4 separate regions of the Homo sapiens genome follow, and all the other regions are linked to region 1. The links come from fine-mapping of genetic effects on gene expression. A gene starts in region 1. Each other region holds a variant in brackets. All regions are shown on one strand. Distances are between the middles of the regions. Region 1 holds the start of GPR137B (G protein-coupled receptor 137B). Region 2 holds the start of ERO1B (endoplasmic reticulum oxidoreductase 1 beta). Region 3 overlaps GPR137B (G protein-coupled receptor 137B). Region 4 has its middle 36 kb from the start of GPR137B.

Region 1 (7,532 bases):
CCATTTTGTAACAATCTGGACTTCCCCACCAAGGCTGACCTGGCTTTTCATGAGTATCGCCAGCCAACTCTGAGCCTTTCAAGAGGTTTCAAACTCAGGGGAAGTCCTAGACAGCCACCTGAAAGCAGATTATATAGACCTCTTTAATCACGTAGGATATCAGCAATTTGTCCTTGCTGTAATAGACAATGTTTCTGAACTTGGACTGACTTTCTTTGCCTCCTGTGCCTGCGTTATTGTCCCGGGACTTTCTGAATGCATTGCTCATCATCATGGTATCCTATACAATATTGCTCTGACCAAGGACCTCACTTTATACTAAAAGAAGAAACGTGGTAGGCTAATTTCTGTCCCTCAAGTAGCAGCTGGCCTTATCCAGTGGTGGAATGACCAATTGTAGGCTTAGTTATTGTGCCTGCAGGACAACAATGCACAGAAAGGTAGCATTGGTGTCCTATAATATATAGAATTTCTTCTGAACCCAAAGCTGACATATCGTGCTATTTGTCCTGCAGTCAGGATACATGGCTACAGGAACCAAGAGAATGGCACCTTTCACTAACACTCAGTGACTTACTTGCAAATTTTTTTGTTTCCCGTTCCTTCGCCTCTAGGCTTGGCTAGTTTGAAGGTCTTAGTAACCAAGGAGGAACTCTTCTACCCCAGGAGATTCAAGTGTGGTTTAAGTGAAATAAAAGTTGAGACCCTGGCTATTTCAGACTCCTCATGCCAGTGGGTGAATTGTAAAAAATAGTATGATGGTGTTGGCTGTGATGACAGTAACTATTAAGAGGAAGTAGAGTTGCTGTTATATGATGAGCAATAAAAGGTGAATAGACAGAATTCAATCATGGTAGTGCCTCTTGCTGCTGGCATGTCCAGTGGCAAACATTAACAAGCTTAGATTCCTCAGAAATCAGGGCTACCCCTGACTAGCTGAGATCCCTGATGAAGGGAAAGGGAAATTTTGTAACGTCCATTAAGGAGAGCAATTACAGCTTTATGACCAGTCAGAAAAACAACAACTCTAACTTATATTTTTTTCTTGCTGTGTCATATGTATGTATTTTATAAATTGATGCAAAAGTAATTGTGGTTTTTGTCATTACTTTTAATTGCAAAAAGCCACAATTACTTTGGCGCCAACCTAATAATGAATTCTCCTTTCCTTTACATTTTTTTCTTCTACTATTTTATACAGGACAAACTAGTGATGGATAACTTAATAATTTAGTCCGTAAGATACAGAATGTTGAGATGAGATGGTGACAGAATTGGAGGAATGGCTATCACCCAGAGCTCCTGGGCTTGGAGCTGGACACAGAAAATGATGATCCTTTTGGGGGAAAGAGGGAATGTGTTTTTCTGTTTTCTTCCTTCCTTCCTTCCTTCCTTCCTTCCTTCCTTCCTTCCTTCCTTCCTTTCTCCTTCCTTCCTTTTTTCCCCTCCCTCCCTCCTTCCTTCCCTTCCTTCCCTTTCTTCCCTTCCTTCCTTCCTGATGGAGTCTCACTCTGTGGCCCAGGCTGGAGCTCAGTGGCGTAATCTCAGCTCACTGCAACCTCCGCCTCCTGGGTTCCAGCGATTCTTGTGCCTCAGCCTCCCTAGTAGCTGGGATTACAGGCATGTGCCACCACACCCGGCTAATTTTTGTATTTTTAGTAGAAACAGGGTTTCACTTGGTTGGCCAGGCTGGTCTCGAACTCCTGACTTCAGTTGATCCACCTGCCTTGGCCTCCCAAAGTGCTGGGATTACAGGTGTGAGCACCTGGCTTGGAATGCTTTTCAATTGTACAAGGGTTATTAAGTGGGAGCATCTTTATTGTATTTTCAGAATTGTAAAGATGATAAGAAACATTTGACACTAGGTAGTCAAAGAGGTGAACTGTTGTAGCCATCTGGCATTCTTTTTGTCTGCTTTGAAGTCATGATAAAGATGCTAGTTTTTCCTAAATCCATTCGCCCCTTCATCCATAATTACAGAACCATGGCTTTCAGCTGTGTACAATGCCACGTGGACTAAAACTACGTTTCCCAATCTCTTGTAGCCAGCTTGCTAGGGTAATTAAGTCCTAGCAATGAGCTAAAAGTGGATGCATTATGTGGTCTTTCTGGGAAGGCTCCAGAAACAGGAGAAAACAAGTGCTCTTTAGTCTTCCCCTGTTCCTCCTAACGCTGGCCTGGGATGTGGACTCAATGTCTGGAGAGCCAGTAGCCCTCCTGGATCATGAGGTAGAATCCATGCACACTGGAGGGAGAAATATCAGAGTCTGGACCTCTGTTGACAAACAATATTCCTTCAGTGTAATAAAATGTATACGGATGCTTTTCCAATGTGCCAGGGGAGAGACTGGTAAACAAGCCTAGTTTCTATCATAAGGACACATAAATAAGTGTGTTGCGGGGGAAACTAACAATCAGGCAAGGATATTAGGGAAGCACACAGGTGAAACACCTAGCCTAATCCTGAGAGTTTGGTGGGTGGAGAGTTCTGGAGAGGCTCTCTGCAGGAAGTTACACCCTCATGGATAGCTAGGAAGGACCAGCTGTTGGAGGAAAGGGCAGAATTTTCTTAGTCTAGGGGAGTCAGGAGGTGTTAACACTGCTTAACACCTTGGAAGAGATAAGGCAGGGAGGTAAGCTAGGGTAGGAGTTTAGACTCTAACCCCAGAACTATGAGGAGCAAGGGAAGGGCATTTAAGCACGGGAGTAAAGTGGCCAGGTGTTCTTTAGAGCGATCATTCCATCATTCCACTTGCGCTGTTCAGAACGGGGATTGAGGGGAACGAGATCAGAGGCGTGGAGCCCAATTCCGTATTTCCTCTTGAAATAGCGATAGGGAGAGAGGGAAAGGATAGAAAAACTGGAAAAGGAGCTCCACGCCAAAGGCACACTTGGCCCCAGTGAACCACCTGGAATACGCTGGGAGCGCTGTAACCACTAAGTAATTCTGAGCAAAAGCTAGGGTGGATTCTGGATATGCCAGGCCGTCTTTTGGAAAAAGAACACACAATTAGGCACGAAGTGGAGTAAGAAAAGAAATCACAATTACTGGAGCCTCGGAAATCCGAGTTTCTTCTGTTTACCAGAACCGCTTGCCCAGCAATGTTTCCAGAGGGCGCCCGGCTTTCCCTCTTTTCCCAGAGCACTCCCCAGCTCTCCCAAGACAAGGGTGGCGTGGTGCCCCGGGGCAAAGACTAAGTCGCTGTACAGCCTCGAGGAGCGAGCTGCTCAGCAAAAGCAAAAGAGAAGGGCTCTCGGGTGGCGGGGACAGACCCTCCTTCGGCATGGGTTGGATCGGACAAGGGGGGCCGTGTGCCGTCAGCTGCCCCACTTCTCTCTGAAGCCCAGTGGGCTCCATCCACTGACCCGCGGCCCGCGCGCCTCCCGGCACCGGCTACATCGCTGGGAGGTGAGGCGCTGGGAGCGCGTGAGGCTCTCCGGGAGAAAACAGCCCAGCTTGCATCCCAGAGGAGGCAGCAGCCGCAGGCACCGTCTATTTCCTCACTCAGTATACAAATTTGACCTCAAAAATACGAACCCTGTCTTTGGCATGTCTGCATTTAGAAATAAACATCATTCCAGACGCCGGCCAGTTCATAGCCACAGAGTCGTAAAGTTTTATTTTTAAAGGGGGGGACGGAAAGGACTTGTAAAGTTTTTTTTTTAAATTTGTTTTTAAATAAAGGAATTAACTTCTGCAAAACAAGCAATCAGCAGCAGAATGCGCGAGGCCACGAGTGCGATCCCCCGAGGCGCGGGGCGCGGCTGGGAAGTTTTGGGGGCGCGCGGCGCGGTGCCGGGACCGGGGAGGAGGCGCGCGGTTCTGGGGGCGCGCAGTGCGGGAGCGCGCGGCCCCGGGGATGGGGAAGGGGCCGGGGACGGGTAGCGCGCGGCCCCTGGGATGGGGAGGGGGCGGGAAGGGGGGAAGAGACGCGGGGCTCTGGGGGCCCGCAGTCTGGGAGCGCGCGGCCCCGGGGATGGGGAGGGGGCCGGGAGGAGGCGTGCGGCTCTGGGGGCGCGCACTGCGGGAGCGCGCGGTGGCGAGGATAGGGCGGGCCGGGGTTCGCGGGGCGAAGGCGCGCGGTGCCCGGGGGAGGGCGGGCCGGGGCGCGCGGGCCGGGGCGGGGGCGCGCGGGCCGGGGCGGGGGCGCGCGGGGCCGGTCGGCGCGCGGGGGCGGCGGGCGCGGCGCTGCCAATCGCAGACAAAGGCCGTCCCAGTGAATCATGTGGTGCCGGGGGAGGAAGTGCGGCTTGTTTTCTTTCCTCCAGTCTCGGGGCTGCAGGCTGAGCGCGATGCGCGGAGACCCCCGCGGGGGCGGCGGCGGCCGTGAGCCCCGATGAGGCCCGAGCGTCCCCGGCCGCGCGGCAGCGCCCCCGGCCCGATGGAGACCCCGCCGTGGGACCCAGCCCGCAACGACTCGCTGCCGCCCACGCTGACCCCGGCCGTGCCCCCCTACGTGAAGCTTGGCCTCACCGTCGTCTACACCGTGTTCTACGCGCTGCTCTTCGTGTTCATCTACGTGCAGCTCTGGCTGGTGCTGCGTTACCGCCACAAGCGGCTCAGCTACCAGAGCGTCTTCCTCTTTCTCTGCCTCTTCTGGGCCTCCCTGCGGACCGTCCTCTTCTCCTTCTACTTCAAAGACTTCGTGGCGGCCAATTCGCTCAGCCCCTTCGTCTTCTGGCTGCTCTACTGCTTCCCTGTGTGCCTGCAGTTTTTCACCCTCACGCTGATGAACTTGTACTTCACGCAGGTGAGTTTCAGAGAGGCTCCTGGAGGCGCTCACCTGGCGGGGTGGTCCCCGCGGGGCGCCCGAGGCAGGGGCGATGGCAGCCGCGGGGGCGGGTCCGGCCCTAGGGCTGAGAGTGTAGGGAGAAGGCGCCGGCTCTGGGGTCGTCCGAACCCTGTCCTGTTTGCGGGCATTTGTCATAGGAAACCCCCTGCCATTCCCAAAAGGGGCAAGGAGAAGGCAGGGGAGGGCTGGAGGCCGCCGCTCACTCGCTGCCCCTGGCTCCGCATCGTGCGGTGGATTCGGGGCGCTTCTCCGTGCGCAGCGCGAAGCAGCAGCGCCTGCACACGCCAGTTAGTACGGATGGAAGGTGTGCCCCCAAGGGAGGCCTGAACTCTAGAATTTGCCCTGCCTCCCCAGGCACCTAACTCCCGGCCTGGAAAGGTCTTCTGCACGTTGGCCTCCAGATTTGGGCCTGACACTGCTGTTTTGAGCGTTGGCAGGGTGAGACCATGTTGGTTTTGATGAGATGTTTTGAACCTCCGGCTTAGGAGCTCTACAGAACTGCGGCTTACTAACTCATTCCACCGGATTGCTAAACAGCAGGCTGGGGTAACACCCAGCTCCGAGCTGCTGCCGCTCATCAGAGTTACTGTCTGAGCTCATCTGAGAGGCCCCAAGAAAAGGCCATAAAAGCTGACTGGGGCTCTTTTACAGCCACACAAAAATCACTTTATGGGGCATATTATTAAATAAGCTAATGGGAGAGTATGTGAATTAACTTGGCTGCTGCTTTACTGCTGATGGTTGACTTAATGAAAGTGCAGTAATTGTTGAGCACTTTGCAAATACTTTGTATAGCGTTGCACAAAGGTTTAATAACGCGGTGCCGCCGTCATCATCGTCATCATCATCTCTGATTCCCATTAGCTTTCCAAGCACTAAGATGTCCATTTTCACTAGGACTCTGCCGAAGGGGAAGGCGTCAACGGTGTCACCTGGTGAGGGTAATTTCAGAACTGTCGGATGGGCAGAAACCCTGTGCAAGCAGGCATCTCATTCCTTTTAAGTGTCTTTTTTTTTTTTTTTGAGAAAAAGTCACTTATTTAAAAAAAGAAAGAGGCCGTATGCGGTGGCGCATGCCTGTCATCCCAGCATTGTGGAGGCGGAGGCGGGAGGATCGCTTGTGTCCCTGAGTTTGAGACCGGCCTGGGCAACATGGCGAAACTTCCTCTCTACAAAATGTACAAAAATTAGCTGGGTGTGGTAGTGCCCGCCTGTAGTTCCAGCTACTCAGGAGGCTGAGGTGGGAGGCGGAGCCCGGGAGGCGGAGGTTGCAGTGAGCAGAGATTGAACCACTGCACTCCAGCCTGGGTGACAGAGCTAGATCCTGTCTCAAAAAAACAAACGAACAAACAAACAAAAAAAACAAAGTAGGAAAAGGATTGCTCTGGTACAGTGGAAGCCACTGACTGAAAATATGGAAGAAGTACTTTTGGCTAAAAAATAGCATATGTGATATTTTGTAGATAGTATAATCTTTTAAAAATGGGTCTACACTCAGACTTCTTGTAAGTCCAGCGCATCAGCATATTTTCCGGTCGGAGAGTAATGCGTATTGCCTGTCCAAGTACAACCTTTAAACCTGCAAACCAGTTCAGGCAGTCGGCTGCATTGCACAGACACTTGGGTTTTGTAATTGAAATGAGGTGGTTCTAGCAAGATGCAAAAGACAGGTGAGGTGATGTTACCCTAAGAACTGTGACAATGGTGGTATTGCACGTTGAGCTCTTTATATTTGTCCCCTTTTTGGGGGGCAGTGGGGGAAGAGGAAAATGCAGGGAACTGCCACAGCTCTCTGGTAATCACATGCAAATTCTGAACTTAGAGCCGGATTAGGGGCCGGGCTGCACATTTTCTGCACCATCTGCTGGTTGGTGAGTAAATGCTGAGCAAGGGAAACAGTGACCAGGCAGACAGAGCCACTCCGGCCCAGGGGCCCAAAGTCACGGCCCTGTACTCTTTATATCTCCCAGGTCTGCGGGCACCACAGCAAAGGCTTTTCGCCTGAGGGCACAGGGTGGCTGGCTGGAGAAGGTGGCATGTCTCCATCTCTGAGTGCTGGCATCTCAGAGCCTGGCAGAACAAAGCCATTTCTGGCTTAGTGACAAAACTGTGATACTTCTGGGGAGTTATAAAGCCTTTTGTCGCCAACCCAGCTCTGCCTCCCTTCTCCTCCTCTCCCGCTCACCCCCTCTTTCTCTTACACAAACCATTGGAATTACCTAAAGTGGGGAGCTTTAAGAATGACTGTTGCTTGGGCCCCCATCTCAGACCAAGTAAATGAGATTTTTGGAGAAGGGGCTGACAGCTAACAATTAAGAAGTATGTTTAAGAAAGCATACTTTCGATCTCGGCTCACTGCAGCCTCCGCCTCCCGGGTTCAAATGATTCTCCTACCTCAGCCTCCTAAGTAGCTGGGACTACAGGTGTGTGCCACTATGCCCAGCTAAGTTTTGTATTTTTAGTAGAGACAGTGTTTCACCATGTTGACCAGGATGGTCTTGATCTCTTGACCTTGTGATCTGTCCACCTCGGCCTCCCAAAGTGCTGGGATTACAGGTGTGAGCCACCGCACCCGGCCAAGAAAGCACACTTCTAAGCAATTGGTTATATTTATTTTTACCAGAACTCTCTGAAGAAAGTACCGGTATTGTCCCCATTTTCCAGAGGAGGAAACTGAGGCTGAGAGGTCGTAGATGACTTGCTCAAGGTCACACTGTCAGTGCATGGTGGAGCTGGGAT
Region 2 (7,532 bases), 140 kb after region 1:
AAACAGTAGAATTAGCAGCATGTTTTATGATATATAGTCTGGCTTTATCTCTTCACTCAAATCTCATGTCAAATTATAATCCCCAGTGTTGGGGAGGGGCCTGGTGGGAGGTGTTTGAATCATGGGGGCGGACTTCCCCCTTGCTGTTCTCCTGATAGTGAGCTCTCATGAGATCTGGTTGTTTAAAAGTGTGCAGCACTTCCCCGATTGTAAGTTTCCTGAGGCCTCGCCAGCCATGCTTCCTGTACAGCTGTGAGTCAATTAAATCTCTTTTCTTTAAAAATTACCCAGTCTCAGGCAGTTCTTTACAGCAATACAAGAATGGACTAAGCCAGGCACAGTGGCTCACGCCTGTAATCCCAGCACTTTGGGAGGCCAAGGCAGGCAGATCACTTGAGGTCAGGAATTTGAGACCAGCCTGGCCAACATGGCAAAACCCCATCTCTACTAAAAATACAAAAATTAGCTGGGCGTTGTGGCAGGAGCTTGTAATCCCAGCTACTTGGGAGGCTGAGGCATAAGAATTGCTTGAGCCTGGGAGACAGAGGTTGCAGTGAACTGAGATCGAGCCACTGCTCTCCAGCCTGGGTGACAGAGCGAGACTCTACTCCAGGAAAAAAAAAAAAAAAAGAATGGACTAATACATGATGACAGTAAAATTCCATTTGAGAAGGAAAAACTGATGATCCAGGAAAGAAAGAGAAGATTACTGGAGCCATGTCCATGAGCGGCAAACAAGGAATGAGACCTAACATACAAGTGAAGGGGCTGCCTTTGATAAAAGCACACAGTTCATCAATGGTAACCAACAGGAAGTCAAAATATGTGGGTACAGAGACTAGTAAATGGATAGATATGGGTTACTCTGTGGAATTTCTCTTCTGATTGCTCCAATTTTAGTAAGGTATGAACTGAGAGTAAGGATAGATGAAAAGGTGATGGAGAATTAAGGAGAAAGAAAAAAGACATGAAATGGTTGTCTAATTCAATAATCATTTCTTCAGCTGGATATGATCAGCTATTTAATCTATCCATCGAGTTTTAAATTTCAGTTCTAGAACTTCTAATTCATTATTATTAAAATCTTTTTGGCCACTCTTTAAAATCTTTTTTCCCTTCTATACTTCAAGTTTCTTTTTATTTGAACACATTAAACATAGTGATATTAAATTATCTGATAATTTCAGAACCTAAGGTCATTATGTGTTTGTTTCTGTTGTCTAATATCTGATTCATGGTGCCCTGTTTCCTTGGGTGTTTTGTGATATTTTACTGCTAGCTGTTTATTCTCCTTGGCACTTCATCTTCAATAATTTTTCGAGGTTTGAGTTGAAAATAAATTCCTCCAGAGGTGATGGATATTTGCTTTTATTGGAAACCCAGGGCACACAAATTTGGGACTGCTATGAATTTTCCCAGAATAAATATTTGGCTTGCGAACCTGTGTGAGGACTGTCTCATGGTTACAAATTCTCAAAAGTTTCTTCCCTGCTTCTCCCAGCAAGTTTCTTTTATTCCCTTTACTTAGAATGGGTTTCATTTCTCGTTTACCCTTATACTGAGGATGTAATTGTTTGAAGTCCAGGCTCCAAACAGCTACATCCTCAATATAAGGGTAAACGAGAAATGAATTATGGTGGAGGCTCCTATTAGTTTCCTCTCACTGGGCAGACACGGGGTTATTTCTTGCCCACTCCACTCCATGCAACTGCTAAAGCAGCTCAAGATCTTTAGGGTTTAGGAGAAGCCCTCAGAGTAACGGACTGGTATAGCACTATTTAAGTTCTAAGTTTCTGGCTTTTCATATATTGAGGGGCTCTGTGTATTACTCAATTTTATGCCACCTCAGAAATGCATTTAGAAAAACTTACATATATCTAATTGAAATTACTTTTTAAAGGAAGATTGTTATATCACTTGTATGCACTATGCCTTTAGTTTCCAGTGCTTCACCAAAGTATATTTACATTTCATTTATACGATAATGGGGCATGAGATATACAAACACGTATCATTTTGTGTGTTCAAAAATATTTTTCTGCTTTTATTTTGGAAGGGGATAACATTTAAAATATGTATCTCCTTTAATGACTTTGATTTCTTGTGAACAGAGGTAGTTTTCAAAAATTCTAATTCTTCCCTTTATCAGTTTTCTACCAATTTATTATATGGATGAAGTCAAAGAACTGGCTGAATTCCACTTTTTGATTTTCCTATTTTCCATCTCTTTTTCTATACTAGAGAGAACTGAAAATACCAACATACTGTATAGACCAGAAAGGGTTCCACATTAGGGCTCCACTGTAAAGTCACTCATTCAATTAAGACATTTAAGTTCTTTGAACTTCAATTACCTCAATGGTCCCACTTCGGAGAGATTGTACGTGTAACCATGTTATAGATTAAAGTACTATCTAAAAGATGATCAGGCCAGGCACGGTGGCTCACGCCTGTAATCCCAGCACTTTGGGAGGCCAAGGCGGGTGGATTACCTATGGTCAGGAGTTCGAGACCAGCCTGGCCAACATGGTGAAACCTCATCTCTACTAAAAAATACAAAATTAGCCGTGTGTGGTGGCACACACCTATAGTCCCAGTTACTCGGGAGGCTGAGACAGAAGAATCACTTGAACCCAGGAGGTGGAGGCTGCACTGAGCCAAGATGGCGCCACCGCACTCCAGTCTGGGTGACACAGAGCGAGACTCCATCTCAAAAAAAAAAAAAAAACAGCACAGTAGAAAGTACTGCTGGCGGCCTGGGCGCGGTGGCTCACGCCTGTAATCCCAGCACTTTGGGAGGCCGAGGCAGGCGGATCACCTTAGGTCAGGAGTTCAAGACCAGCTCGGCCAACATGGCAAAACCCTGTCTACTGGGAAAAAAAAAAAAAACACACACACAAAAATTAGCCAGGCGCGGTGGCAAGCACCTGTAATCCCAGCTACTTGGGAAGCTGAGGCAGACAGAATTGCTTGAACCTGTGAGGCAGAGGTTGCAGTGAGCCAACACATGCCATTGCATCCAGCCTGGCCAACAGAGTGAGACACTATCTCAAAAAAAAAAAAAAAAAGAAAGTAAGTACTGCTGGCAACAAAAACCAAATATATTCACTTGGAAGACTGTTTGGCACAATGCTACTTCAAATATTCACAAATCTTTAACTGTTGGACTATATTTATATTCATTTGGATATAATGAAATTAAAAGTACAGGGGCAGGCCAGGTACAGTGGCTCACACCTGTAATCCCAGCACCTGGGAAGCCAAAGTAAGAGGCTCGCTGGAGGCCAGGAGTTGAAGATCAGCCTAATAACATAGTCCCCATCTCTACACAAGAATTTTAAAAATACAGGTGAAATTATAAAACATTAATTACACATAATTAGTGGTAAATGAAAAAAATTTAAAATGAAGTTTCTAGACAGATAAGCATAAATTAATATGTGCTATATAAAAAGAGAAAATGGGAACTCTCATTTCAGAAAAATATCGAATTGTAAATTTCACTCAGAAACACTCAACTAGTGACTAGAAAATAATTTTGCCAAAGACAATTTGGAAAATTTACTTTAGTAAGTCTGCCCAGATTACCACTATCTATTCCATCTCAGTGTTTTCCAAGTGAGGTCCAAGAGGTAGTCAAAAGATAACTTTGCTACAGTTATACTGTACTTGCAATGTTTGTTTAAAATGCTGATATCTGGGCCATATTCCAGATCCAATCAATACATGTGGAGGTAGGGCCAGAGAATCTGCATTTTAACATGTTCCCCAATACCAAAAATTTGCCCCTTTTATTTTTATGGTTCAAACACAGACACAAACGGACTATTCAGGCACTCTGGGATTTAGTGCAGGGCACCATAAAACCATGAAATAAAGTGACTCAATTCAGAAAAACATGTTTTCACGGTTACACTCAGAGTCACCTTCAATTTTTCTTG[G/C]ATGAGCACTAATTGCTTCAAATGACATCTCCCCTCATCATCAGGCCACCTGAGACCTTCGTTTTATTTTTTTGGCCCTCAGCAGTGCTGCCTCCTTGCAGCAGGTGCAGACAACAAGCAGCAGCACCTGGCAATCAATTCAAATTCTACTGAATAGAAGCAAACACCTCTCTGAAGGCGAAAGGATCTGGTCAGCTAAGCCTCAGATTTCTAGCACACTGAGAACACTTGTAATCATCGCTTCACATCAACAACCAGCCAGCACCTCACGACTGCCAGAGCCAGAGCCTCCATCCACGAGCCACAACGCCCCACTCAGACCCCCCCAGTCTCGTATTGGGACTTACCTGGCGATGCCACTTGGCAGACACAGCTCAGCTGGGTAAAAATAAAGCAATCTTGAGCAAGGGAAGGTGCTCGAGGAAGAGTAAAAGCCCAGAAAGCTCTAGTCCGACAGTTCGAGTGAAGTCTTGCCCCCTCCCAATCCCCTGCGCCTGGCGGGGCCTCGGGGGTCTGCGGAGTGCCCCCAACTCTCAGTCTCCCTCCCTCACTAACTCCTGAAGGGAAGGACGTCACCGTTTCTCTGGGCGCTCGCTCCCTTCGCAAGACAGCCGAGGTGGTTCATGCCCGTCCCATCTCCCGCCACACTCCCAGCCGCTTAACACATCCGAGAGGAAAAAACGAAAACAGCTCAGGGGGACCGTCACCATCTTCCTCTTTTGACTGCCATTACCCGGAGTGTCGCCGTCCCCCCACCCTGCGGGCGGTTCGCAGATGTTTCCCGCACTGGACGGTCAGGTCTCTGCTCCCCGGGTTTTCTGCTCGCCAGAAATCACCTCTTTTCTGGCCCGGCCCTGCCCGGCCCTCCCCGCGTCACAGCCGCGGCCCGTGTGTAGCGGCCGCGGGTGTTCGGCCGGGGGTTCCCGGCCCGCTATCACTCGGGCTTACCTGCGCCTCGACGACGCTCCGCAGGAAGCTCAGGGTGACCAGCAGCTGCACCGCGGCCGCTACCCCCTGCCCAGCGCCTGCCCGGCGGACCCCTTGGCTCATGCTGACCTCTACCCACACCGCGGCCAGCCGGACCCCTCGGGGCCGGGGAACGACGGGCGGCCCAGGCGACGACCCAAGGGGACGGTTCCCAGCGGCCGAGCGACTCCAGGGTCAGAGGTCTGCACTCCAGTCCGGAGGCAGGCGACTCTTTCCCCAACACCCGGCAGCTGCGAGTGAGGCAGGAAAGGCGAGCGCCCCCACTTCATCCCCCAGGCGGCCCCGCCCCCGGCTCGCTTGGCTCCTCGGCCACGCCCCCAAGCGCGGGGCCTTGTGGGAGTTGTGGTCCTGGGCGGTCGCCTAGGCGCCGCGGCAGGAAGGCGGAGCCGCTGAACGAGAGGACTCGGGAACTACAACTGCGAAGGCCGCCCCGCCTCCCCGAGGCCTCGGGCTCCGCGGCGGCCAATGAGGCGGGACCACGCGGGCCTCCAAAACACCGGGGGGTGCGGGCGGGGGAAGCGGGGCGACCTCTTCTCCGGGAAACCAGGCTGAGGACCTCTCTGCGTCGGTCCCTGCTGTCGCTCCTGGAGTCCTCGCAGACGCCAGGCTCTAGGATTCACCCAGTACGCGGGCGAGTTAGGAACGGACGGTGCGGGATCTTTGACTTTCGGTCTGAAGCGTATTCTTTGTCTCATTCATTTTTCTGTAGCCTCACATCTGCTGTGGGTGCCTATGTAAGCTACCTGTGACTTGTAGAGATGGCTTCGGCTCTTTTTTAATTTCATGCACCCTAGATGTGGATGTCATCTCCTGCCCCGCCCCAGCCCGACTCCTAGGTTGACACGTGCGAGTATAACGCATGCTAAAGAATGAAGACAAACCCAAAGGCTTATGATGAAATATGGGGATGGGGTAAAACAAAAAAAAACTTAGAGTGACATAGATTGGGCGCAGATCCCAACTCTAAAACATTCTAGCTAGTTATTGGGCCTTAATTCCCACCTCATATCTTGTTCTAGGGCTACATAAGATTAGATACAGAAAGAGCTGAGTATAGTGCCTAGCACCTAGGAAGCACTCAATAAATGGTAACTGCTATTAGTTTTATTAATGCCTTTGATTTCTACAAAACGAGTAATACATCTCCCTTGTGTTTATGTAGCGTGTATTAGTTTCTCATTGATGCTGTAAGAAACTATCACACATTTAGTTGCATACAACAAAAGAAATTCATTACCTTATAGTACTGGAGATCAGGTGTCCAAAATGGACCTGTAGGGCTGTGTTCCTTTTGGAGGCTCTCAGGGACAATGTGTTTCCTTACCTTTTCCAGCTTCCAGAGGCCACCTGCATTCCTTACCTCATGACTTCACATCTCCTTCACTCTCTCTGCTTCCCTCGTCACATGCCTTCTCTTGTGACCCTAACTCTTCTGTCTCTCTTGTATAAGGACCCTTGTGATTACATTGGTTACAGACCATCCTATCTCAAAATCCTCAACTTGATCACATCTGCACAGTCCCTTTTGCCATATAGGATAACATATTCACAGGTTCCAGAGATTAGGATGAGGATTTATAAATAGAGGGTCATTAATCAGCCTACCACATAGTGGTTTATACCTTTCAGAACCAGCAGAGCATTAAACCAAATGCAGGGTCCTGGGGTGGCTGACTGCATAGGTCACATGCCCATGAAGCCAGTCCTGCCTGTCCTTTTCCCCTCCAGCAACTCTTTCCCTTCTGCCTCCAAACTGTCCAGATCTTCCCTAGCTTAAAAGCAAAAAGAAATTGGCTGGGTGTGGTGGCTCACACCTGTAATCCCAGCACTTTGGGAGGCTGAGGCGAGCAGATCACCTGAGGTCAGGAATTTGAGACCAGCCTGACCAACGTGGAGAAACCCTGTCTCTACTAAAAATACAAAATTAGCCGGGCAAGGTAGCACATGCCTGTAATCTCAGCTACTTGGGAGGCTGAGACAGGAGAATCGCTTGAACTCAGGAGGCGGAGGTTGCGGTGAGCTGAGATCACGCCATTGCACTCCAGCCTGGGCAACAAGAGCGAAACTCTGTCTCAAAAAAAAAAAAAAAAAAATTGTTGCTTGATTTTTCCAGCTACTTTTCCATGTCTCCTTTTCTCTTCCAAACCTATACTTCCTATCTGCTCACTGCCTTCTTCCCTTCATATAAATGTGCTTTTGATAAGAGAAACTTTTTATCAAGTTTGGTAGACTTTTTAAAAGATTCCTTGTCTGTGCTGTATTTGAGGTTGTCAATAACACATACTTCCTGGAATTTTGTTATGCAAAACTTCTTTTTTTAAATTGTGGGTTATAAATTTTCCTATTATAAAATCTCGGGTTCTTTAAGGACTCTCTCTAGTGCCTGGATATCAAAGGCAGAATTCATGGCTTTCCAGAGGCTTGAAATATTTGTTATTAAAGAACAAAGGAAGAAAGTGGGTTCGGGGGTGGAGTAAAAAAAAGAGAGAGAGACAAAGTGGACAGGGAACTTTAATGCAGACAGGGGTCAGATAGCTTTTGTCCTCTTAGTTACCTAATCCAGAAAGTCACAGTAACAAACCTCCCCGTTTGCTTTTGTTTTCA
Region 3 (7,532 bases), 65 kb after region 1:
TTAGTTACTATAACTCTGTAGTGTAATTTGAAGTCAGGTCATGTTGATTCTCCCAGTTTTGTTCTGCTTAAAATAGCTTTGGCTATTCTGGGTCTTTTGTGGTTCTGTATAAATTTTAGGATTGTTTTTTCTATTTCTGTGAAGAGTATCATTGGTATTTTGATGGGGATTGCATTGAATCTGTAGATTGCTTTGGGTAGTATGGCCATTTTAACAATATTGATTCCTCCAATCCATGAACAGAAAATATTTTTCCATTTTTTGGTGTCCTCTTCAGTTTCTTTAAATGTTTTATAGTTTTCATTATAGAGCTCTTTCACTTCTTTGTTTAATTTCTAGGTATTTGTGGCTATTATAAGTGGGATTACTTTTTGTTTCTTTTTCAGATTGTTCACTCTTGGTATATAGAAATGCTACTGATTTTTTGTGCAACTTTACTGAATTTATTAGTTCTCATACTTTTTGTGGAGTCATTAATTTGACTTTTTCTATTCCAATTTGGATGCCCTTTCTCTTGTCTGATTGCTCTAGCTAGGACTTCCAGTACTATGTTTAATAACAGTGGTGACTGTGTGTTCCACATCTTAGAGGAAAGGCTTGTAGTTTTCCCCTATTCAGTATGATACTAGCTATGGGTCTGTCATATATGGCTTGTATTATGTTGAGGTATGTTTCTTCTTTCCCCGGTTTGAGGGTTTTTATCATGAAGGAACACTGAATTTTATCAAGTGCTTTTTTAGCATCAATTGAGATGATCATATGGTTTTTATCTTTCATTCTGTTAACATGATGTGTCACATTTATTTGTGCTATGTTGAGCCATCCTTGTATCACATGGATAAATCCCACTTAGTCATGATGAATAATCTTTCCAATGTATTGTTGAATTTGGTTTACTAGTATTTTGTTGAAGATTTTTGCATCAATATTTATCAGAGATATTGGCCTACAGTTTTATGTGTCTTTGGTTTTAGTATCAGGGTAATACTGGCCTCCTCCATGAGTGTAGAAGTACTCCCTCTTCCTCTATTTTTTTTGGATTAGTTTGAGTATGACTGACATTAGTTCTTCTTTAAATGTTTGGTAGAATTCTGCAGTGAAGCCATTGGGTCCCAGGCTTTTCTTTACTGGGAGACTTTTTATTATGGCTTTGATCTCTTGCCTTTTTTCTCCTTGTTACTAACAGTGAAAGTCTTTAGAAAACCTTAAGAGAGCTCTGAAAAGAACCCTTGTTTTAGGGACAGAAGAACTGAAGAAAAGCTGGGAGAAAACATTGCTTTCTCAGTGGATTAGGGAGCAGAGAAATTCTAGTTAGGTAGAATAAAAGACTTGTTATTGGTCTGTTCGGGTTTTAGTCTTTCCGGTTTAGTCTTAGTAGGCTGTATGTGTCTTGGAATTTGCCCATTTCTTCTAGATTTTACAGTTTATTGGCATATAGTTACTCATCATCTAGCTTTTCAATAAGGGATTAAAACAATGATGACTCACTGTTGCAAGCAAGACTCTGATAGAAGACTTTGCCCATACTGATAAAAGGCAAGGCGAATCCCTCTCAAACATAAGAGTAACTGAAATGAATATTCCAGCTGAACAGATATAGCCTACATTCAAATGAATAGAACATCTTTAGTCTCCTACAAGAAAGAGATCTTATTTTTGTCTGGTGCAAGGCATGATGTCTGTAAGTATGCTGAATGATTACCTGTCTTTCTAGACCAACCCTGGAATGGTCCCCAGCCATGGATTCAGTCCCAGATCTTATTTCTTTGACAACCCTCGAAGATATGACAGTGATGATGACCTTGCCTGGAACATTGCCCCTCAGGGACTTCAGGGAGGGTAAGACCCTACTTCATGTTAGACAAGCCTCATCAGGAGGGAAGGGTTACACCAGTTAAATAGATTCAAGCTAAAAGAAAATTCCTACGTTAAAACTGTGCAGCCTTAGGTGGTATAAGACTGGATTCTCAGTAGATCATTTTACTTATGTGAAACATTCAGGAATGAGAAAGGACATCCGGTTTTTTTAAAGCCCCATAGCATTATTGTATACAGTAGTGTTTCCTAAACAATATTCCATGAAACACTATTTTCTTAATAGTTATGCTGTGCAAAAGGAAATGATAATCAACTTTTTTATTTCTTGGAGATAGGGTCTCACTCTGTTGCCCGGCTGGAGTGCAGAGTGGTGCAATCTTGGCTCACTGCAACCTCCCGCTCCCAGGTTCAAGTAATTCTTGTGCCTCAGGCTCCTGAGTAGCTGGGATTACCGGTGTGCGCCACCGCACCCAGCAAATTTTTTTATTTTTAGTAGAGACGGGGTTTTGCCACGTTGGCCAGGCTGGATTGAACTCCTGGCCTCAAGTGATCTGCCCACCTTGGCCTCCCAAAGTGCTGGGATTACAGGCGTGAGCCACTGCACCCGGCCAGAAAAAAAACTTTTTAGAAAATGCCGAGCGAGCCTGTAATATGCTAATGTGTGCTCTGAATCTCCAAGAGGGAAATACAGCACTTGTCTATGGAATCACTCAATGGAACATGATATCTTTAATCACATGTTCTAAAGCTAGAGAGTAAATGCAGTAGTATTTATTTATTAGAATAAATTATACATTATAAAGGACCAAGTTTTCAAATTTGAATGATGTCAGTTCTTAATTTAAAATTTCATTTACATGAAGGGTATTTATTTGGTCTCAATTTTCATGAATACTTATTTAATAAATACTTCTATAGCATCTACTCTGTATCAGACACTGTTCTAAGAGATTCACAAATATCAACTCATTTAGTCTTAACAGTCCTGAGAGGTCAGTACTATTATTAGCCTCATAATACAGATGAAACTGAGGTATCTAGAGGGTAGGTAACTTGTCCAAGGTCACACAGCTAGCAAGTGATCAGGCTACAATTCTAACTCAGGCAGTTTTGTTCAAATTTGTTTTCTGAATCACCATACTATGTAAACAGTTTGTATATAAGTACCCTGTCTCTTAGTCTCACCTACGCTTATGTTATACTTTCACGTGAGTTTTAATAGCAGGAGTCTCCTTCCTTGAATCTACATGCGGATCTGGCCCAGAAAATGTGGAAAGGGCAGTTAAATACTGAGAGTTCAAAGCAGCATACATAGAGGGTGTAAGACAATACATGAACTACCAGTCCGCTGCCATCGCCTAATCTTCAGTGAATTGGGAAGGCAAATAAAAAGAGGGAAGCACCTGAAATTGCAACCATAGCAGAGATCCACCCCAGGATTCCAAGTTTTGCTTACCTCAGCATGGGCATGGTCTGCAAACAGGAAGGGTAGTTGCTATTGGGATTCCCTTCCCTTTTCCTCAGCCTGCTGTGCTCAGCCATACTCCACTACCCGATGACTATCATGTTTCCCCTTTCAGCCTGTGGCTCTGAGACGGTGAGGCCAGCAGGGGTGAGAGGAGCCAAAAGGGCTGACATAGTGCCTGCCAAGCCTGTCTTCTCTCTGCTTGTCCTCTCAGGACCCCCATCCTGTTCCTGGGAAAGGGGAGCTTCTTAGAAAGTGAAAGGTTATCTTATGTAATCTTTTGTAAGATTAAAGACTTAGCATTAACAACTTTACAACTTTTTTCCCTCTGGGATGAAATGATAAAAAATATATGCTTGCCTTTTTACTCCTTGTTAGTAACAGTGAAAGTCTTTAGAAAACTTTTTAAGAGAGCTCTGAAAAGAGTCCTTGTTTTAGGGACAGAAGTACTGAAGAAAAGCTGGGAGAATACATGCTTTCTCAGTGATCGGGGAGCAGAGAAATCCTGGTCAGATAGGATAAAAGATTGTCGCTGAGAAAAAAGAAGAAAGCTGCCCAATGCGCTGAGCCAGCAGATGTAAAGAACGTAAGCTGGAAGCAAGCCAACAAACAAGAAGGACTTCTTGAAGTCAAAAGCTGTCCTTTGGGTCACTCAGATTCTGAGCTCCACCTCTTCCTTAAAACTGTTCTTTTCCAGTTACCCCACTGCATCTCCTATTAGTTGCTTTCCCCTTTAAACCCATATTCTGCTAGAGCTGTCCCACCCTCTCACCTGCCAGAAATGACTTAGAGCTGAGGGAGTCCTCACTACCGATATGGTGAAGACAAGACCCCCTTTCTACTACATAGAGGAACATAATTATAATGAAAACGACTTACGTGTATTGAGAATTAACTATATATTAGACACTGTTCTAAGCACTTTACAGATGTTAACTCAGTCCCCACAATAGGCCCACGACGTAGTTACTAATATTACTCCCATTCTAAGATGAGGAAATTGAGGCATAGAAGTTACTTGTCCAAAGACACCACCACAGGTTGTGAGCTGTACTCCATGTTAGGATTCAGATGCAGTTTGTTGCTGAAAACATTTCCTATGCATAGTGACTGGCTGGGTTCTCTAGTCATGCTGTATACTCTGTGCTCTAAAGAGTTCAGTAGAGTTGTCGGTGGGCATTTCAGCCCTGTGTGTAGCATGGTTTTGTGGGAAAATGGACTTTAAGAGCCATTTAAAAGAACTTTAGAGTTATCTATAGTTTACACAAAAATCTCAGCTCTGTCTACCTAAACTAGACTATGTCATACATACTATATAATGTTTCAAGTCACTGAAATATTTTTTTCTTTTTAAGTTTTGCTCCAGATTACTATGATTGGGGACAACAAACTAACAGCTTCCTGGCACAAGCAGGAACTTTGCAAGACTCAACTTTGGATCCTGACAAACCAAGCCTTGGGTAGCATCAGTTAACAGTTTTATGGACGATTCCTCAGATGAAAAGCTTCAGAAAAGCATAGTGACAGCTGAATTTTTAGGGCACTTTTCCTTAAGAAATAGAACTTGATTTTTATTTGTTACAGGTTTCCAATGGCCCCATAGGAATAAGCAATAATGTAGACTGATAAACCCTTATTTTAGTACTAAAGAGGGAGCCTTGCTATTTCAGTGGGTATAATTTAAACTTTTTAAAGAAAATCTGTACTTTTATAAAGATGTATTTTGTATAACTTAAATAATAATGCTAAAGTATACTAGGGTTTTTTTTTCTTGAGAATGTTACTGCAATCATGTTGTAGTTTGCACAGACTTTTATGCATAATTCACTTTAAAAATATAGAATATATGGTCTAATAGTTTTTTAAAGCTTTTGGACTAAAGTATTCCACAAATCTTACCTCTTTAGGTCACTGATGGTCACTCCGATTCTGAGTGCCACATTGGTAGACTCCTAAAATACAGTTGACAACTTAGCCAATTGCAACTCCAGTGTTGATAATTAAAATGAAATGGTAAAGCAGCAGACTGTAAGGTCTTTAGAGATTTTTTTTTTAAGGTTCAGGCCGTAGGTTCCTCAAGGAATCTCTTAAGTTTTGCCCAAAGACTGGTACTTCCTTTCAGTAGGGCGCTAATGTATACACATTAATGATAAGTTGATAACATTAAAAATGTAGCTGACTTATCCTATTAAACCTC[C/G]TCTGCTATGTTCACAGATTCTGCATAGTTTTTTTTCAGCCTAATGAAATCTAATATGCATTACCTCAGGGCCACATCAAGAATACACCCCTTTCCGAACTCACTGAATGTTCATTACATTCAAGGAGAAAATAAGAGGGTCCATAAAGGGCATTAATAACAAATACCCCAAGCCGTTGAGCTAAGACTATGTGGAATCCTAATAGTTTTTTCCGTAATCTCCAACTATATTTAAAATAATGCCCTTCTAAATAGCTCTGTAAAGAGCCTATTGGAAGCTGCACATTTAAAAATGGCAATAGCACTGCAATATGCTGTAGCATGATGCCTGTCAGCCATGTTCCAGACAATTCCTTGTAAGTCATCTTTCATTTAAGTAAAAAACAGGTTATGAAGTACTGCCTCCCAGACCGGAAGTGCCATTCTAAAAACTCCACTATATATATCCTGGAGCCATAAAACTGCCTATTGGGAGGCTAAATGCTCTGCTTTTCTATAAAACAGAGATAAGGTTCTAGAGGAAGTACTGTTACCAGAAACAAGGCACGTTTCTTCTCTGCCTAGGAATGCTCATCTGGGGACAGAGGGAAGGTTCAATGAAAAGGAACTTATATTAACAAGTCCTACTACATGATGCAACCCATTTCAAATGACTCCTCTCATTTTGATCTTCAGGAATAACTGATCTCTGGGCATTGATTTCACAGATGAAGTCTACTATTGTTTTGGTAGTATTTAAAATTGGGATCTCAAGTTTCAAATTGATCATCATTGGGCTTTTCATGTGTATAGAACACCTTCACTCTGCATAATCCTACATAACAACATTCTTGTCTTCTAGTACATGAAAAAATTGGGGTAACATAGCATTTAAAGTAGTTATCAGGGAAAAGTCTATACTGAAGTGAACCCTACACTGTTATTCAAGTTGCCTTAACACATTATAAGCTATTATTCTAAATAGCTTTAACAGATTATTGTGGTCACACTGTATTACTAATAGTTAATTTAAAGGCAGACTCAGCATGTTTTAAACTCCTTTAAGTTACATCTTCAGAAAGTCCTGAAGTCCTTCAGTATTAGGTCAGCTAAGGGAAGATATATTTTTAAAAATAGTGATAAGACTATCACTAATATCATACTCATCCTGTAATATGTAAACACAGTTCTGTTGTTACTGGCAGAAAAATTGGAATACCCAGCATTAAGTGAGAGAAGTCAGCCTACTTTTATGATGAAGCTACTGGGATTTATTTGAACTATTATTTTTGTTAGATAGTATAAAAATGTTCTAAGTGCCTATTTTTCTCATTCCCCTTTTAAAAATGTAATGCTAAAATTTCTAGAAGTGTTGTAAACACGGAATACAAAAAAACTATGATTGATTACTCAAACTCTCCTTCCTTCTTAGTAAGGAAAATTAAAATTCCCTTTGGCTTTCTAATTTACTTGTTCTACTAGGTACACTAACAAAACTACTTCTGGCTGGGCGCGGTGGCTCACGCCTGTATCCCAGCACTTTGGGAGGCCGAGGCGGGAGGATCACAAGGTCAGGAGATCTAGACCATCCTGGCTAACACGGTGAAAGCCCGTCTATACTAAAAATACAAAAAATTAGCCGGGCGTGGTGGCGGGTGCCTGTAGTCCCAGCTACTTGGAAGGCTGAGGCAGAAGAATGGTGTGAACCCAGGAGGCGGAGCTTGCAGTGAGCGGACATTGCGCCACTGCACTCCAGCCTGGGCAACAGAGCAAGACTCGGTCTCAAAACAAAACAAAACAAAACAAAAAAACTACTTATGTGGAATATTAAATGCTAAGAGGAAAAGGAATGGTGATTACTGGTTGCAAAATACCCAAATGTCCTCTTGTTTTAAAGCAACACGATGAAATTAAAGCCCTGATGATTAGAAAGTTGAAGTATATGGGGAAGAGGGAATCACTGAAAATTTTGTGCCATCATTTAGCTAAGTCTGATGGAACACTGAAAAGTTTCATGTGAACGTTTCTGGGTAACTGTTGGAAATAGTTTCTCTGACTATTGGAATAGGTGTC
Region 4 (7,532 bases), 35 kb before region 1:
AGCGGCGGCAGCTTTTGAAAAGCTCTGAATGATATCAGACAACAAATCACAGCACTGAAAAAACAGGTCTAGTGCTTTCGGTGTGAGAAAAGGTTATTTTTCAGTGTGCTGAAATACTGTACGGCAATTAAGTTGCTGAAGATGGATTTGAATGAACTAAAACTTAAACGTGGCAGAGAGAAAGCAGCCTGAGGCATGGCTGACTCTGCTCTTTGGTGTGGAAATGAAGCCCAGCGGCCTGGGGCTTGGCCTTTGTAGATCAGCCTCCGAAGGTGAAGCTGGAATGAGGGAAGGCATCTGCCCCCAACACCAGGTGTCTGAGGCTCTGGCCCCACCCCACAAAAGGGAGACACTCTCCAGCAAAGCTGCCGCTAAGCAGGGGCTCGGCGGTGACTGCAGCTGGTGCATCTTTTCTTGTTTCCGTTTTGCTGTGGTCACTTGATTTTAGAAGTTGCTGGAGGTACCTGTCCACCCCCTCCTCAGACAAGGGGCTGGGTTGGTTTGCAGGTAGAATCACTTTCCCTTTTCTCTGGACTTGATTTTCAGGCCAGTGGACTTGCGCAGCCTTTGTTTTGGCTGTTGTCCCTTCTCTAGTCCTTGCTATGTTGCTGAATATTAGCACAGTATTTGTAAGGGAGGGTGGGTTGGAGTAGAATGAAAATTCAACCATTTTTGCCTGACAGCAGATTTGATAGAAGTTTTAGTAGAGGAGAAGTTAGAATTTAACTCATGATTCATTAAATATATGTTTTCTATATTTCTTCTTATAAGAGATTTTCGACATCAATCATGTATCAAAGAACAGAATATACATACAATTTCCATTTTGTCAGTTTTATCCAATTCATCCACATCATGCAGAAACAGAAGTTTCCAGTAGATGGCGCCAAAGTCTGTCTTTTCTCCGCCTCCCTGCGCGCTCTTCGTTGTTTCAAGATCCGCACATCAACCAACCCTCCAGAAAATGACATTTCTTTATCAGCGCAGACCAGCACGAGGTGCTCTCCACAGCAGAAAATCCCAGTAAGATGTCTGGCAAGAAAAATAGCCCCAAGAGTTGTAGCCCTGGGCAGTAAAACCAGAAGCCAGGAATCCTGGTTTCCAAACAGTTGATGGGTTTTGTGCCAGTTCAGTTTTGAAGCAACGGCCCTGCGGTACTGAGGGTCAGAGCCGTCTCCCATCTGCTCCCTCTCTTCCTCCCACTGGCCCCCATGGAAGCAGCTGCCCAAGCTTCTTGAGAAGGTGAGTGCCGGAACTCCAGGACAGGAAGAAGACTCTAAGCTTGGTCTTAAAAGACCACAAAGCGGCCTGGCGCGGTGGCTCACGCCTGTAATTCCAACACTTTGGGAGGCCGAGGCGGGCTGATCACGAGGTCAGGAGATCGAGATCGTCCTGGCTAACACGGTGAAACCTCGTCTCTACTAAAAATACAAAAAATTAGCCGGGCGTGGTTGCAGGCGCCTGTAGTCCCAGCTACTCGGGAGGCTGAGGCAGGAGAATGGCCTGAACCCGGGAGGTGGAGCTTGCAGTGAGCTTGCTGGATCACTCCAGCCTGGGCGACAGAGCGAGCCTCCATCTCAAAAACAAACAAACAAAAAACACCACAAAGCATGAGATCCAACAGCCTGGGCAACATGGCGAGGCCTTGTCTCTAGAACAAAATTTTAAATTAAAAAAATTAGCCAGACATAGTGGTGTGCTTGAGCCGTAGAGGTCAAAGCTGCAGTGAGCTGTGATTATGCCACTGCATTCCAGCCTGGGCAATAGAGTAAGACCCTGTCTCAACAAACAAACAAACAAAAAGCCAAACAAACAAAACCCCACGAGATCCTAAGGTTCCCATGGCCTTTCTTCTTGCACTGGGCCCATGACTCTGCCTCAGGCTGTGACCGGGACATGAATGGAGAGGAAGGAAAGGGAAATGGTAAAGGGGGCAGGATTGTCTCCAAGTACTTCCCCAGGTCCAGGGGAAGAGGGCTGGCAGGTGAGGAAACCAGAGAATGGGAAACCCAGGCTGAACCCTGATGTTGAGCCCGAACGCTGATGCACTGCCGTCTGTGTGCATAGCACAGTGAAAACTGCAAAGAGATGTGGTTCCTGGCCTCCAGGAATTAACGATCAGGTGGAAAGAAAGTTCATTCCACCCAGGGATGCGTTGGAGCCAGCTAGCACCTTTGAGCTGATTGTGCACGTCTCTACACAATGACACCATGACGTTGTGTCAGTAGTTTCAAATCCGCCATGTGGCAGTATTCACACCAGAGAAATCAGCGAACTCCACAAATCAGGGCTCCCTCCACTCCCCCAGAGCTGAACTTTAAACATTTACCTGCATGCTGGTGACTCTGCCTCACTATAGCACAAACTGCTTAAATAAAGGTGGGGCGGGACATTTGGTCACAGTCGGGAAGCAGTTGAAAGTGTCATGGGTTTGAGTCTAAGGTCAAGCTCTTCCGCTGATTGACTATCTGACCCTGATTATCTCCACCTCAGCCTCTGCCTCTCTTTAATGAGACTGATGCTATCTACCCTAGTTAGTTACAGAGTGGCTGGGAGGCTTAAATGAGATCGGTCTGTGTGGATACTATGTAAATTATAATGGATTTTATCAAGGTAATAGATGCAGCTTTAAAACATTCATAAAATTATGAGAATGAGGCCTACCAAATCCCAGTTTCATAAGGATACATATGATAATGCATATTTGTTTGATTTCCCATTTATTTAATAACACTTATTGACACTACCCATATGCTAGACGCTGCTAGTTGGGCAGTCTTAAGAGAAGATGTAAAAACACTTTGTAGATTACAAAGCTTTTTTTTTTTTTTTTTTTTTTTTTGAGATGGAGTCTCACTCTGTCGCCCAGGCTGGAATGCAGAGGCGTGATCTTGGCTCACTGCAACCTCTGTCTCCAGGGTTCAAGTGATTCTCCTGCCTCAGCCTCCCAAGTAGCTGGGACTACAGGCATGCATCACCACACCCAGCTAATTTTTGTAGTTTTAGTAGAGATGGGGTTTCGCCGTGTTGGCCAGGCTGGTCTCCAACTCCTGACCTCAAATGATCCGCCTGCCTGGGCCTCGCAAAGTGCTGGGATTACAGGTGTGAGCCACTGCACCCGGCTGATTACAAAGTTGTTTTTTTTTTTTGGTTTTTTTTTTTTGAGATGGAGTCTTGCTCTGTCACCCAGGCTGGGTGGAGTGCACTGGCGCAATCTCGGCTCACTGCAAGCTCCGCCTCCTGGGTTCATGCCATTCTCCTGCGTCAGCCTCCCGAGTAGCTAGCTGGGACTACGGGCGCCCACCACCACGCCCGGCTAATTTTTTTTGCATTTTTAGTAGAGACGGGGTTTCACCGTGGTCTCGATCTCCTGACCTCGTGACCCGCCCGCCTCG[G/A]CCTCCCATACAAAGCTTTTATACAAGTCTTTTGTAAAGTAGAAGGCATCATGCAAGGAAAAATGTTGTTTTTCTCAGCTTTCTTCATCTTTTCCAATCTGGACACACATTTTCACTGCAACTAATATTATACCGATACTTTCATTAGACTAAAATACCTGGCAGCGGTCACAGACAATGGTGTGGAAAGGAAACCAAGACAAGAAAACATCCTTGCAATATTTGGCTGAGGCAGGAGAATGGCGTGAACCCGGGGGGCGGAGCCTGCAGTGACCCGAGATGGCGCTACTGCACTCCAGCCTGGGCGACAGAGCGAGACTCCATCTCAAAAAAAAAAAAAAAGGCCATAATAAAATTTATACAAAATTATTTCTATGTATGCCTATATGAATAGGGAAGAATATACATAAAGATATTCACAGTGGCTATCTCTAGGTGGTAAGATTATTTTAATTAGCCTTTCTTGCTCATATGTAATTTTTATTTTCTCTACAAAAATTGGCTACGAAATTTTGGAGATAAAAACTGAGAAGTAAAAGATCTTCATGCAGCTATTTATTTTGTAGAATTACAAATATGGATATGAAAGGAGCCTTACAGGTCATCTGGTTTCATAAGATGGGGAAACTGAGGCTGAGGGAGATGGGAAGGAAATAACTGAGGACTTTGAGTTTTCTCTGAATTTGCATTCTCTTTTTTCTCTCCAAATGTGTGTGCGGAGCTTTTGATAATTAATCTAAACCTGTATACTCTACAATGAGATTCTCATCTTTCATTATCTTTCTGACTTTTTGATGTATCTGCTTCCTCTGGTATGGTCATTTGTCTTTGCCTTGTTTCTAATTTTTTTTTTTTTTTTTAACATTCAACTGACTGCTTGGTTTCTCTTTTCTTTGAAAGACTCTTGATGTAAATAAGCCCTTTATCCCTATCTGGCCTCTTTAATTATATCTTCTCACGTTTGCTTTCTGCTCTCTACCGACTAATTTCTCAGAAATTTGCAAGGGTGAATCACAATGCCTCCAAGCCATGATTCCCAGAATCAGAAAATTGCTTTTTAAATTTGAGGTAGACTGAAACGTTTTTCATCCACGTATAGTATATGATCGAATACACCAGCCTTTGCTTTCTGGACCTCAGCGTTTACATCTGCCAGGTGGATGTTTTCCCAGCTTGCATGATGACTGCTTCTTGTTGAAAGCATCTTGGAAAATCTGAAGCCCTTTCCACCTCAACAGCACAGGCTGGGCTGGTGTGCTGGGCTCATCCCTGTAATTCCAGCTGTTTGGGGGACAAAGGCAGGAGGATTACTTGAGTCCAGGAGTTCAAGACCAGACTGGGCAACACAGTGAGACCCTATCTGTGTTAAAAATAAATTAGTCGGGCATGGTGGTACATGGCTGTAATTTCAGCTACTTATGAGGCGGAAAGATTGCTTGAGCCCAGAAGTTCGAAGCTGCAGTGAGCTATGATCATGGCACTGCACTCCAGCCTGGGCAACAGAGTGAGATCCTGTCTCAAAGCAAACAAAAACAGCATGAGGCTGGGTACAGTGGCTCATGCCTGTAATCCCAGCACTTTGGGAAGCCGAGGGGGGGCAGATCACTTGAGGCCAGGAGTTCGAGACCAACCTGGCCAACATGGTAAAACCCTATTTCTACTAAAAAATACAAAAATTAGCCATGTGTGGTGGCACATGCCTATAATCCCAGCTACTCGGGAGGCTGAGGCATGAGAATCACTTGAGCCTGGGAGGCGGAGGTTGCAGTGAGCCGAGATCATGCCACTGCACTTCAGCCTGGGCAACAGAGTGAGACTCTGTCTCAAAAACAAAAAACAAAACAAAACCAAAACAGCACCAGATACTTGACTGCTAGATTGCACATGAGCAAATGGATTTGGGGCTAGAGATTGCGAAAGAAGCCTAAGCCACCTTCCAAGATGTGAAGTGTTGGGCTGCACACAGGGAAAGTCCAGAGAGGCAGGGTGAAACATCAGAACAAGTGACTTTGACTCCTGTTTTTGTTGAAGCCTCTCTGTGACACACAGTTATCCAGCTTGGAACATCTCTGGGTATAGTTTGGCTCCTTATCTGTGGCCTCTTCGAAAAGTGTCAATCATGAGGGTTGAAACACCCGCCTACATACACACACACTTAGTGAATGAATTGACACAAGCCTCCAGATTCTTTTTTGAGAGTAGAATAGCACTCACTGTCCAATAGAAATATGATGCAGGCCCCAAAGCTGAGCCATATATGCAATTTAAAGTTTTTAGCAGCTTCTTTTTTTCTTTTTTTTTGAGACGGAGTTTTGCTCTGTCGCCCAAGCTGGAGTGCAGCAGCACGATCTCAGCCGATCTCAGCTCACTGCAATCTCCGCCTCTTGCACCCAAGCGATTCTCCTGCCTGAGCCTCCCAAGTAGCTGGAATGACAAGTGTGCACCACCATGCCCTGCTAATTTTTGTATTTTTAGTAGAGACAGAGTGTTGCCATGTTGGCCAGGCAGGTCTCGAACTCCTGACCTCAGGTAATCACCCCGCCTCGGCTCCCAAAGTGCTGGGATTACAGGCATGAACCACTGCATCTGGCCATTAGCAGCCTCATTTAAAAAGGTAAAAAGAAATATGACAATAATTATAATAACATAATCAATATTTTAAATGATTGTTGAGGGCTGGGCACGGTGGCTCACGCCTGTAATCCCAACACTTTGGGAGGCCGAGGCGGGTGGATCACCTGAGGTCAGGAGTTCAAGACCAGCCCGACCAACATGGAGAAACCCCATCTCCCCTAAAAATGCAAAATTAGCTGGTCGTGGTGGTGCATGCCTGTAATCCCAGCTGCTCAGGAGGCTGAGGCAGGAGAATCGCTTGAACCTGGGAGACAGAGGTTGTGGTGAGCCGGGATTGCGCCATTGCACTCCAGCCTGGGCAACAAGAGTGAAAGTCCATTTCAGAAAAAAAAAAAAATTGTTGGAGTATTTTACATTCTTTTGCACCTACTAAGTCTTCAAAACCCAGTATGCCTTTTACACTGAGGGCGCGTCTCCATTCCAACTAGCCACAGCTGAAGTGGTCAGCAGCCACATGGGGCTGGCGGCCTGCAGGCCGGACAGCACCAGTCCAGGTGTATCCAGCGAGTTGCTGAGGATGGCAGGATGGAAAGGAGGAGTGTGAAATCGTGCCTGGAATGTCCAAGCGGATTTAATCTTATTGGTTAAAGATGTCCACTAGGTGGCGATATATGCAAGGAATGAAAATTTACTATGTGGCTGACATTGTTAATATATGCAATTATTTGTAGATATAATTCAGTATTTCCATCATCCCTGCAAGATGAGTAACAGGATGTTCACTTTGCGGATGAGGAAAATGAACCTTAAGCAACCTAGGCGTCTGGTGAAAGGGTTTCCAGCCAGCAACCGGAGGAGGCAGGAATCATGCCAGGTGTGTCTGGTGCCGGAGCCCAGAGGCTTCCCAGATCCGCACACTTCATGCTCACTCATCTGCCAGCCACACAGAGGTCCTGGATGTCTGGTGGGCGATGAGCAAGCGACAGAGAGTCCGTGTGATGAGGTTGCTCAGGCTGATGTGACAACAGTGAGAAGAGGCGTCTCATCTCATCCCTAACCAGACGGGGTTAGGGATGGCGTCTTGGAGCAGCCAACCGGAGAGATTGACATCGCTGATAAAGAGGTAGATTCACACGACCTCATCTTTGTCAGTGCACAAAATGGCTCCCTACAGCCCACTGGTGACCCGGCTGCAGAAAGCTCTGGGTGTGCGGCAATACCATGTGGCCTCAGTCCTGTGCCAACGGGCCAAGATGGCGATGAGCCACTTTGAGCCCAATGAGTACATCCACTATGACCTGCTAGAGAAGAACATTAACATTGTTTGCAAACGACTGAACTGGCCTCTGACCCTCTTGGAGAAGATCGTGTATGGACACCTGGATGACCCGGCCAGCCAGGAAATCGAGCAGGGCAAGACACCTGTGGCTGTGGCCGGACCACGTGGCCATGCTGCAGTTCATCAGCAGTGGGCTGCCCAAGGTGGCCATGCCGTCCACCATCCACTGTGACCATCTGAAAGAGGCCCAGCTCGGAGGCGAGAAAGACCTGCGCCAGGCCAAG

What was found. PIP is the estimated chance that this variant, and not a neighbour inherited with it, causes the effect.
Region 2: its variant is fine-mapped to the expression of GPR137B in whole blood (TOPMed, PIP 0.98).
Region 3: its variant is fine-mapped to the expression of GPR137B in blood mononuclear cells (TOPMed, PIP above 0.99).
Region 4: its variant is fine-mapped to the expression of GPR137B in whole blood (TOPMed, PIP above 0.99).

What each region holds. Positions count from the first base shown.
Region 1 is chr1:236,138,286-236,145,817 of GRCh38, forward strand. GPR137B (G protein-coupled receptor 137B) reads left to right here and starts at 4,254. Exons shown (of 7, transcript NM_003272.4): 1 at 4,254-4,751. The coding sequence starts at 4,338. RefSeq lists silencers at 3,993-4,172, 4,243-4,512 and an enhancer at 4,478-4,981.
Region 2 is chr1:236,276,793-236,284,324 of GRCh38, forward strand. ERO1B (endoplasmic reticulum oxidoreductase 1 beta) reads right to left here and starts at 5,166. Exons shown (of 16, transcript NM_019891.4): 1 at 4,890-5,166. The coding sequence starts at 4,991. RefSeq lists enhancers at 4,561-4,760, 7,345-7,494 and silencers at 4,831-4,880, 4,921-5,510. The variant G/C (reference allele first, on the strand shown) is at 3,942.
Region 3 is chr1:236,203,412-236,210,943 of GRCh38, forward strand. It overlaps GPR137B (G protein-coupled receptor 137B), which reads left to right. Exons shown (of 7, transcript NM_003272.4): 6 at 1,715-1,839; 7 at 4,639-5,496. The coding sequence ends at 4,747. Among named protein-coding and RNA genes, the nearest start is that of GPR137B, 65 kb to the left of the region's middle. The variant C/G (reference allele first, on the strand shown) is at 5,481.
Region 4 is chr1:236,102,932-236,110,463 of GRCh38, forward strand. No RefSeq gene overlaps it. Among named protein-coding and RNA genes, the nearest start is that of GPR137B, 36 kb to the right of the region's middle. The variant G/A (reference allele first, on the strand shown) is at 3,396.